3 linked regions of the Homo sapiens genome follow. The protein of the gene in region 2 purifies or fractionates together with the protein of the main gene of each other region. This does not show direct contact. Each region holds a gene or a part of one and is shown on either strand. Other genes may lie near its edges. The genes, in order: ATXN7, RAB3D and RASGRP1.

Region 1 (3,652 bases), on a different chromosome or scaffold from region 2:
TTTCATTAGACTGTAAGCACCACAAGCATAGGGAACACGTGGTTATTGTGCTAAACCCTTTATTCCCTGCGACCTAGAAAGAGTGAGGCCTGTGCTCACAGATGTACGTAATAAAAAGTTCTACAATGAGTGAATGGACAAAGGCTACAGGAGTCACAAATCTCTCCGCGTGGAAGGCACAGAGGACTTTCGACGGGATATTAGACAGATGAAGAAGTGAGGAGGGGCAGTGAGGATGGGAGACAGACAACAGAGAATGAGTAATGGGAATGAACAGCAGCAAATCCCCTGACGGTGAAGAGAACAGATAACGTTCTAAGTCTAAGACAGAAGAGACCTGGCAGCAACTTGGGAAACACTCAGGGTAGGGACATGCAGGCATGTTTAGCCCTACCAAGCTTAATAGATTCAGACCAACGTGAAGGCAAGGAAAAGGAAAAGAACTGACAAAACAATGAAAAAAAGTCAAGTCATCCTGTAAAAGGGCAGGCCTGGTGGATGCTGCATTTTCTGCCAGTTCTATGCTGATCTCATGACAAGCTGGGTCTCAAGACTTATTAATGCAATGACAGGCTTAGCCCAATGCCACGGAGAGTAATGACACCCTTAAAGAAGGACGACAAGGGGAGCATATATCATTTGAAAAGGAAGATGTGAGAAAAATGCAGACCCATTCAAAGTCACTCCACCTAGCAATAAAGGCACAGGAAGAATGCCAGTCAAGCTCCTTGAAGATTTTGAGTTGAAAAAAAACTTTTGGCAACCTCACTTCTGGGTAGTTATCCAAAATAACTGAAATCAGAATCTCAAAGAGCTATTAGAACTCCTATGTTCACTGAAGTATTATTTATAATAGACAAGATGTAGAAACAATATAAATGTCTGTCAACAGGTGACTGGATGAAGACAACATAGTATATACATACACTGGAATACTATTCAGCCCTTAAAAAGAAGGAAATTCTGCAATATGCTACAACAAGTATGAGGTAAGCTTGAAGACATTATACTAAGATAAATAACCCAGTCACATAATGACTAAACACCGCATGATTCCACTTATATGAGATCTATAATCAAACTCACAGAATCAACAACTAGAGTGGTGGCTGCCAGCGGCTGAAGGGAGAGCGAAATAAGGAGTTACTAATCAATGAGCATAAAGTTTCAGTTATAGCAAGATGAACAAGTTCTAGACATCTGCTGTATAATATTCTTTCACAGTCAACAATACTGTCTTGCACACTTAAAGGTGTGGTTCCCTGCCACGCTTTGTAAATGACTGAAAAAGAACATCTTGGGTTTGAAAAAAGCAAACCTCATTGCCCACAGGTACTGTATTACTGAGAAATCCATGTTACTGAGAGTCAGGTAGGCAGGAAGAGCGCAGAAGGAGAATGGCAAGTTGTGATCATGATGTGGACAGGGCTGAGGCATGCTTTCACACATTCTCTTAGGGACAGCTGAAACTGACATAATTCTACAGAACTCAGGTGGCTATCTTCATACACCACCACCACTACACCACTGTGTGTCCAATTAGTACCCTATACAAAAAAAAAGCAGTTTGTTTTATGAGAGTTTTTAACCTAGAAATCCAAGGATGGGCTTGGGGTGGGGGTGTCCATTAATCCAAGATAGAAAAATTCAGAATGTGTATGTGTATGCACTATTTTATTCTCGGAAGATGGACCGTGGTTTTTTTTTTTTAAAAATGAGATATTTAAAGGTACTCTTGACCAACCCTTTTCCCCAAAAAGGTTCTGAACCACTGTTGTAAGACAAAATCTATATACTAAAATTAAATTAGAAGCTTAAAGTAAGAACCACTTAAAAATTTCCCACTCCAGAAGACTGTAACATGCCTCCACTGGCTGGGGCATGGGACAGGGCCTGAAGTCCTTTATTCAAATACACTTTAATAAAATTTAAAGTAAAACACTAACAATTTTATTAATTTTTAGAAGAAAATGCTAACTTTTATCATTTTTACTTCCTCCCTCTAAGGTTTTAAAATTACATACTTCAAAGCAGTGACTCTGAATGCTTCTTGAACCTATCTGGGGGGTAGCTGGGGACACCCTCCAGAGAAATGCACATCAACATACAAGCTCATTTATGTAGAGGTGTTCACTGATGACCTGAAGCCACCCCACATCAATAACCCACACTTTTCAGCAAATATACCTTATTAGCATACTGGCATTTTAAAAGAAGGAAGACCCCAGAGCAAAAAGGAAGACCATTACATTTTCTTAGCTTGTATATAAATTATTAATATATTTTATCTAGTTTTTTTTTTCTCTTAAAAGAGATGGGTCTCGTAATGTTCTCCAGGCTGGACTCAAACTCCTAGGCTCAAGCAATCCTTCTGCCTCAGCCTCCCCACTAGCTGGGACTTACAGGCATGCCTGGCTTGCAGTATTTTTTTTTTAAACTAGAAAACAGGGATATTTCAAAATCACAGATTTTTTAAAAAGTGGTTCTTTAAAATTTAAGACCATGGGTGACACATTTTTTAAATGTTCATACACACGCAAGGGAAATTTCTGCACTTGCTTTAAGCCAGTATAATTTAAAGCACAGTCAAGGGTAGCCTATATGGAAATATTAAAAGTTTTTAAAAATAACAGACTGGGAGAGAACACTATTCCTGTGGATACAACACTGCTCATTAGAAACAAAACCTCTGTCAAGATTATAATTTATAACAACGCACTTCACATTTTGTCAATCTGAGGCTTTCTTCAACAGAACCAAGTTATTCCTTCACCTACACAATTCACAACAATCCACAGAGCATCTTCTCTGGGTTAGAGAGACTGTGGGAGTAGTGTGGTACATCCCAGTCACCCATGTTTATCAGGATGGTCGACTTGACTTTCAGGAGTCCACCTACCTTGCATGTCAAAGACCGGGTGCAGGGCTTCTTGGTGTCGAGATCAATAACCCCACAGTGGATGTCAGGATCAAACTCTCTTTCTGTCAAAAGAACACAGGCATTACATGTGGCCTGACAAACTCTCCTCCATGTATTTTTTAAGCAAGAAAATAGAAGAAATCAACAGTTAGATAAATTATAGCTGGAATAAAAGCCACATTATCAATAAAATAAAAAATATACAACGTGTGAGTGCTGCAACAAAGCAGCAACATCACTAAGACAGGGGGTGACTACTGCCATCAGATGGTAGAAAAGATATTGTTTAAGTCTGTATTACTTCCTTCAGAAATACACCACTAGAAAGCTACTTTTACATGACACACACACACACACACACACACACACACACACACTCATGCTCTTTAAAACCCAAGAGTGAAAAGAACAAACATATTAACTAAGGAACTTCCTCCTAAAGCTGAAGTTGACCAGTTTTAAAAATAGGAATTCTAGATTGCAGTTGATTTGCTCCCCACGAATGCCCATTTAATATATAGAGAAGCATTATGAAGAAAGAAAATTTGAAGTTACCTGATAATCTCTTATTTAAAAATTTCCTATTATTGGAATTGTCTTCAGGTTTCTTTTCCAGAGTGGGCGGTGCAGGAAGCCCTTTGCCATTCAGAATCTGTCCAGGTGAAGGCAAGGTTGGCTTTGGTATTGAGGGGCAGTTAAGGCCAGGCTTGACTAAGGAACTCACAGTAGCAG
Region 2 (3,652 bases):
AGTGGCGTGATCTTGGCTCACTGCAAGTTCCGCCTCCCGGGTTCACACCATTCTCTTGCCTCAGCCTCCCGAGAAGCTGGGACTACCGGCGCCCACCACCACGCCTGGCTAATTTTTTTGTATTTTTAGTAGAGATGGAGTTTCACAGTGTTAGCCAGGATGTTCTTGATCTCCTGACCTCATGATCCGCCCTCTTCGGCCTCCCAAAGTGCTGGGATTACAAGCGTGAGCCACTGCGCCCGGCAGAGAAATATTTCTAGGATATATTATTTAGTAGAAAAGTTCAAAGTGCAGGAAAGGGTATATACAGTAGGGAACATCTGTGTAAAACAAAAAAGTAGCCAATGTGTTGTCAATGCCTGTGGGTGCTCAGCATATTTCTGGAAAGAGATACAAGAATCAGAGAAGCTGGGAGACCAGAACTGCAGGTGGGGAGTGGGTTATTGCCTTAGTCTCTTCCTGTGCCTTCTGAATTTTGCACATAGGGTGCTGGCTTGGATGGGGCTTATGGGAAAGCTGGGGTTAAAAACTGATTGCAAGCATCAGTTTCTTTCTTTCCTTTTTTTTTTTTTCTTTTGAGACAGAGTCTCCCCCCATTGCCCAGGCTGGAGTGCAGTGGCGTGATATCGGCTCACTGCAGCCTCCACCTCTCAGGTTCAAGTGATTCTTCTGCCTCAGCCTCCCAAGTAGCTGGGATTACAGGCGTCTGTCACCATGCCCGGCTAATTTTTGTGCATTTTTAGTAGAGACGGGGTTTTGCCATGTTGGCCAGGCTGGTCTAGAACTCCTGGCCTCAGGTGATCTGCCTGTCTCAGCCTCCCAAAGTGCTGGGATTTCAGGCATGAGCCACCACGCCCGGCCACAAATAAAGTTTTATTGGCAAACAGTCACACCCATTCATTTATGCATTGTCTGTGGCTGCTGTCATGCAGAGTTGGGTAGTTGCCATAGAGACTGTATGGCCAAAAATATTTACTATCTGGCCCTTTAAGAAAAGGTTTGCTGACTCCTGGACTAAAGAAAGCAGTCGTATCCACTATTTTGCTAGAACAAAACAGCCAGGCACGGTGGCTCACGCCTGTAATCCCAACACTTCGGGAGGCTGAGGCAGGTGGATCACCTGTCAGGGGTTCAAGACCAGCCTGGCCAACATGGCAAAACCCCATCTCTACTGAAAATACAAAAATGAGTCAGGCATGCTGCGCACACCTGTAATCCTGGATACTCAGGAGGCTGAGGAAGGAGAATCACTTGAATGCAGGAGGTAGAGGTTGCAGTGAGCCAAGATCGCACCACTGCACTCTAGCCTGGGCAACAGAGGGAGACTCCATCTCAAACAAAAACAAAAACAAACCATAAAGAACATCCCCTTGGGCTGGTGTGGTGGCTCATGCCTGCAATCCTAGCACTTTGGGAGGCTGAGGAGGGAGGATCACTTAAGGTCAGGAGTTCGAGGCCAGCCTGGGAAACATAGCGAGACCCTATCTCCACGCAAAATTAAAAAAAAAGGCCAGGCATGGTGCCTCACGCTTGTAATCCCAGCACTTTGGGAGGCCAAGGCGGGCAGATCACGAGGTCAGGAGATGGAGACCATCCTGGCTAACATGGTGAAACCCCATCTTTACTAAAAATATAAAAAATTAGCTGGGCATGTGGCACGCGCCAGTAGTACCAGCTACTTGGGAGGCTGAAGCAGGAGAATTGCTTGAACCTGGGAGGTGGAGGCTGCAGTGAGCCAATACGGCACCACTGCACTCCAGTCTGGGTGACAGAGTGAGACTCCAACTCAAAAAAATAAAATAAACCTGGGAAGCGGAGCTTGCAGTGAGCCGAGATCGCGCCACTGCACTTCAGCCTGGGCGACAGAGCGAGACTCCGTCTCAAAAAAATAAAAAATAAAAAAATAAAGAACATCCCCATCCTTTTCCATGGCTGCATAGTATTCCACCATGTGAATATACTTTATGTCCACTTGGTTCTCCAACTGTGAGACACCTGGGGGGGATCTGTAGGTTTCACTCCTACTAATACTACTACTACACTCCACACACCATATCCCACATGGGTGAGGATATCTCTAGGATCAATTTCCAGAAATGGTTTTGCTGGGTTCCCAGGGGATAGGCAGTGGGGCAGTGGGAGTTCCTGCGCGTGGATCCCCTGCAATTAGACGGGACATGTGGCATACACATGGGTATCTTCCTGGGCAGATCCTCAAAGGATCAGTGACTGGGTTGGACCCTGAATCAGAGGATGGGGATGAGGGTTTGGTTCTGGGAGACCAGGGCCTGTGGCCCAGGCTGGGCACTAACCAAGGTCGTCGGCGAGCCTCCGGCCATCCTCAGCAGGCACAACACGTTCGTCCTCCAGGTCACACTTGTTCCCCACCAGGATGACCTGGGCGTTGTCCCAGGAGTAGGTCTTGATTTGCGTGGCCCTGCAGAGTTACCAGTGGTGAGCCATGAGCCGGGGGGGTTAGGGGTCAGAGGAGAGGGCAAAGATCAGGGGTCCATGATCAGCAAGCACTCACCAGTCCTGCACAGCGGCAAAGGATTCCTGATTGGCGATGTCATACATGAGCAGGAAGCCCATGGCTCCCCGGTAGTAGGCCGTGGTGATGGTGCGGTAGCGCTCCTGGCCCGCTGTGTCCTGGACAAATGGCAGTGGCAGTTGGCTGGGAACTACCTGTTTCCCAGTCCACCCCTGTCTTAGAGGGGCACTGCCCTGTACTCATAGCCCCAGCCTTACGGGGGAGACACAGACTTGCTTGTACAACCTCTGGTCTGATGGAGAATACACAGATCCTGCCCTCACAACCCCAGTCTGATGGGGGAGGCATGGATTCATTACCAAGGGATCTCCCCAGTCTGATGAGGGAGAGACTTGGGCTTGCCCTTGAGGGGTTCCAAGTCTCAGGGGTCAGTGGCCTCTCACAGACTTATGAGCCCCTTTGACCTTGTCTCTAAGAACCAACTGGGCCAGATGGTACCATCCTGACAGGACACCTTGGTACTCTTGCTACCACGATGATTGTTACCAGCGGCTAAGTTGGGAGAGGGAGCTAGGTGTGACTCTGCAGACCAGGTCGGTCCAATGGGGGTCCCAGGGTCCCCTCTAAGATGGTACCCAAAACTCTTCCCTGTTGGTCACCAGCACCTGGGACCTTTCTTTTTTCTTTCTTTCTTTTTTTAATAGATGGGGTCTTGCCCTGTCACCCATGATGGAATGCAGCGGTGCAATCATAGCTCACTGCAGCCTCGAACTCCTGGGCTCAAGCAATCCTCTTGCCTCAGCCTCCTGAATAGCTGAGACTACAGGCGGGAGCTACCATGCTGGGCTAATGTTTAAAGTTTTTTTTAGAGATGAGATCTCGCTATGTTGTCCAGGCTGGTCTGGAACCGCTGGGCTCAAGTGATGCTCCACCTCAGCCTCCCAAAGTGTTGGGATTACAGGCATAAGCCACCACGCTAGTGTCACAAGTACTTCAAACATGTCTTAGGTTAGTATCATCTCCGCAATCAGACCCCCAGGAATAATACTGTTTCCCGCCAGGCACAGTATTACAGTGGCTCATGCCTGTAATCCCAGCGCTTTGGGAGGCCGAGGTGGGCGGATCACGAGGTCAGGAGTTCGAGACCAGCCTGGCCAACAT
Region 3 (3,652 bases), on a different chromosome or scaffold from region 2:
TGACAGTCAATCTGATGACCAAGACGGCTACTTAGTGACTGATATGAAGGAGTCCCAGAAAGAATGGAATGGGATGGCTTAAGATTTCATCATGCTACTCAGCACAGCATGCATTTTAAAACTTATGAATTGGCCAGGCGTGGTGGTTCATGCCTGTAATCCCAGCACTTTGGGAGACCGAGGTGGACGGATCACCTGAGGTCCAAAGTTCAAGACCAGCCTGGCTAACATGGTGAAACCCCGTCTCTACTAAAAATACAAAATTAACCCGGCGTGGTGGCACACGCCTGTAGTCCCAGCTACTTGGGAGCCTGAGGCAGGAGGATTACTTGAACCTGGGAGGCGGAGATTCCAGTGAGCTGAGACTGAGCCACTGCACTCCAGCCTGGGTGACAGAGTGAGACTGTCTCAATCAATAAATAAATAATAAAATTTATGAATTATTTCTGGGATTTTCCATTAAATTTTTTTTGGACTGCAGTTGACCTCAGATAACTGAAACTACAGGAGACAAAACCTCAGATAAGGGGGACTACTGTAACCCTTTTAGACACTGTGCCCAAACTTAATAAAATTGTGGCCTACGAAGTACCATTTCTCCACAATGAAGAACTTGGAGTTCTTGGAGTCAGACCCCTTCAAATCACTGGGAGATGGCAAGAGAGCTTCTTCTTCATAAACCTCTACCAATGGTGCAGGTGAGCCCTAGGCATGGAAGGGGCTCACAAGACAAGAGTGTAACAGCAAAAATGATAAAGATATTTTTATTCCCCTCCGAAGGTGAAATCAACAACTTGGGGACTTTTGCTTCAACCCTGGACTTACTAATTCACTATGCAGACCACCCTGAGGGTCAAGTAGCTACCGACAGGAAGCACTGCTGTGGGGGGACCCCAAGCTGAAGAGGAGCAAGCTCTCTCTTATAAGCTAAATGACATGAAGGCTTCTTAATCTCTGTGACTATTTCTCTCTGTCACCTCTGAGATGTGGGCAATCTTTTCAACTGTTCCACCTGGTTTCAGCAGAACCGTTAAGGAATGAAGAGGTGACTAAAGATGATGCCCTTTTGATCAGACCACTGGGAAGTGGGGGGCCTCCCCAGAGGCCCAGCATTGTGATAACAGAGATAATAAAAGACTCCCCAAAAGGGAGCTGAACACCTGGGAAAAACAGATGGGGTAATGAGCTTAGGTATCTCTCCCTAAAAAGAGAGTTCCTCTCCATGCTAGTTTGGAAGGATTGGGGCTTGAGTATAGTAAGGTCCTCTTACATGAAAGTGCTCAAAGAGCAGTCATTATCTAACCCATGCCATACATTTATATCCTCGGTATATTACAGTGGTTTATATTTATAACAACAGCTCCAGCTGGACTCAGTGGCTCATGCCTGTAATTCCAATACTTTAGGAGGCCGAGATGGGAGGATCGCTTGAGGCCAAGAGTTGGAGACCAGTCTGGACAACATAGGGAGACCCTTATCTCTACAAAAATTTTAAAAAATAGCTGGGCATAATGGTGTGCACCCATGGTCCTAGCTACTTGGTAGGCTGAGGTGGGAGGATTGCTTGAGCCCAGGAGTTTGAGACTGCAGTGAGCTATGATCGTGCCAGCCTGTGCTCCAGCCTTGATGACAGAGGAAGACCCTGTTTCTATAAAAAAGAGAAACAAGCAAAACAGCCCTATGTCATAAAAGATAAAAGTATATTCTGTAAAATCTAATAATGTAGGAAAATGTACAGGACATTTAAGAAAAATATTCATTAATAAAACATTATGTATTACAAAATGGTATCTGAAGAACTCATATCCAATTATCTGGTAAAATTCAACTATCCGGAATGTCATTCTTCAAGGGTTCTGGATAGCTAAGTTTTTAATATATCACTATATAACTACACTCAATGTGCAAACTGACCTATGGTCAACCGAACCACAATTCCTTTTGAGAACACATTTTAGAGCAAGGAGCTGGAGCGAGGGAATCAGTGTCAAAGATGGTAACTGAATATTCCATGGCCTATGAACATGGGAAGAGGCACACATTGTTTCAACTGGTCCAGCAGGAATGTTTGCAGTGACACTGTCTGAGGCCAGACAAAATCACAGTTACTCTAAAAAATGTGACTTCTCCATCCTATGGATTTCCTTAAGGTTTGCCTCCCTGCCACTTAGCCTGGTTGACAAGGGATGGTGTGGTTGGAAATGCTCTCTGGGCTGCCCACCAAGGAGAAAATGTTGGCACACATCTTGAGAATGCTGCTAAGGGCCCCAGAGAAGACAGTAGCACTGACCTTATTGATTTCATGTGGGACATGCGAACTTGTCTCCTTGAGCCTCGAGATTGAGCTGTGACACAGCCCACCTATCACAGCCATCAGTGTATTGAAGTTCTGTAGTTGGTGGAGCTTCTGTGACACAGAAGACAGATGACAGCAGAGTCACTGTACATGTCAGTTATATGGGGAGCTTAGAGGCTGCCTCTTGTCTCTGTGCCGTGAGTCTCCCTTACGCTGGTTAAAGACTAGTTACGAGGCATTGCAATTTCCTGTCCATGTCTCCCCTTCTGCTTTATTCAGACTGGTGGATTCCACATCTGGGAGGCATTACATCTCTCTCCTTTTGTTGTTGCTGATCTGTGGACCACCTTCTAGATCAGTGCTTTCTTAGAATCACCTCAAGTATTTGTTTAACACAATGGTTTCTGGACCTAACCCAGACATTCTGATTGCCTGGATCTGGGGTTAGGCTTGGAGATCTGTACTTTTAATATACCTTTAGTTAATATCAGAGCAGGTGATCCAAAGTCAGAGCTGTTGACTTTGAGAAACACTGGTCTAGACCATCCAGAGTTGGAGAAAGATATTATTAAGTGTAATCTTTTATTTATTCCAAATTTACCAGACTTTTATTTTTGAGGGTAAGGACTTTGTCTTATTTTCCCATGCAATGCCAGTGCCTATATAGGACAGTAACTGGGACAGAGAAGCTAGAATCTCTGGGGAACTTCAAATATGGGTTCATAGTACTTGTTTTCCTCTTATAAAATGCCCCTCAAACATTAAATGCAGCCATTCAGCACTGCATGGGCTTAAAGACCTAAGACAATCCAGGATGGTCCAGCTCCAGTAAATCTTAGAATTGCCCTTTCCTTTGCCATGTGGGCCAGACTCGGGAAAATAATGTAGGCTGGTAAGCATCTTTTGAAAAATGTTAAAGGTCTAAACAGATCTAAAACTGGATCCTGACCCCTGATATGGCCTGTATGGCCCCCTCCCCTCCACACTGTCCTTGTATGGAAGAAGAGACAAGTCACCATATCTAGATCTGGTTGAAGGCACACAAACCTCTCCACCCCCTCGCCATGGTTCAGGAGGGAAAAAACAGCTCTAATTAATAGACTAAGCTGGAGGAAAAGGGGATAGAAAGTTTACCTTATAGCCCAAGCCAAATGTCTTAAACCAGTTATTCACCTGAGCCACCTGGATGAACTTGATGAAGACTTCTGCTCGGAGCTGCGGCGTGGGGCGGCTGAGAACCATCAGTTGTACCCACTGGGAGATGCCGTTGCACAGAGCAATAGATCGCTCCATGGTGGGGTTTTCCTTCACACAGCTATTTACAAGGTAATTCTGATAATCAGAGAACTGCAGGAA

What was found.
Region 1: the proteins of RAB3D (region 2) and ATXN7 purify together in Homo sapiens (affinity purification with mass spectrometry; one large-scale study listed by BioGRID and IntAct). This does not show direct contact.
Region 3: the proteins of RAB3D (region 2) and RASGRP1 purify together in Homo sapiens (affinity purification with mass spectrometry; one large-scale study listed by BioGRID and IntAct). This does not show direct contact.

Annotation. Positions count from the first base shown.
Region 1 is NC_000003.12:63,982,269-63,985,920, reverse strand, and holds part of ATXN7 (ataxin-7), read right to left. Parts: coding exon 3,476-3,652; intron 2,983-3,475; coding exon 2,900-2,982; intron 1-2,899. UniProt on the Homo sapiens protein: Acts as a component of the SAGA (aka STAGA) transcription coactivator-HAT complex. Mediates the interaction of SAGA complex with the CRX and is involved in CRX-dependent gene activation.
Region 2 is NC_000019.10:11,333,135-11,336,786, forward strand, and holds part of RAB3D (ras-related protein Rab-3D), read right to left. Parts: intron 2,650-3,652; coding exon 2,531-2,649; intron 2,438-2,530; coding exon 2,313-2,437; intron 1-2,312. UniProt on the Homo sapiens protein: The small GTPases Rab are key regulators of intracellular membrane trafficking, from the formation of transport vesicles to their fusion with membranes.
Region 3 is NC_000015.10:38,509,314-38,512,965, forward strand, and holds part of RASGRP1 (RAS guanyl-releasing protein 1), read right to left. Parts: intron 3,644-3,652; coding exon 3,470-3,643; intron 2,408-3,469; coding exon 2,291-2,407; intron 1,786-2,290; exon of another isoform or gene 781-1,785; intron 1-780. UniProt on the Homo sapiens protein: Functions as a calcium- and diacylglycerol (DAG)-regulated nucleotide exchange factor specifically activating Ras through the exchange of bound GDP for GTP. Activates the Erk/MAP kinase cascade.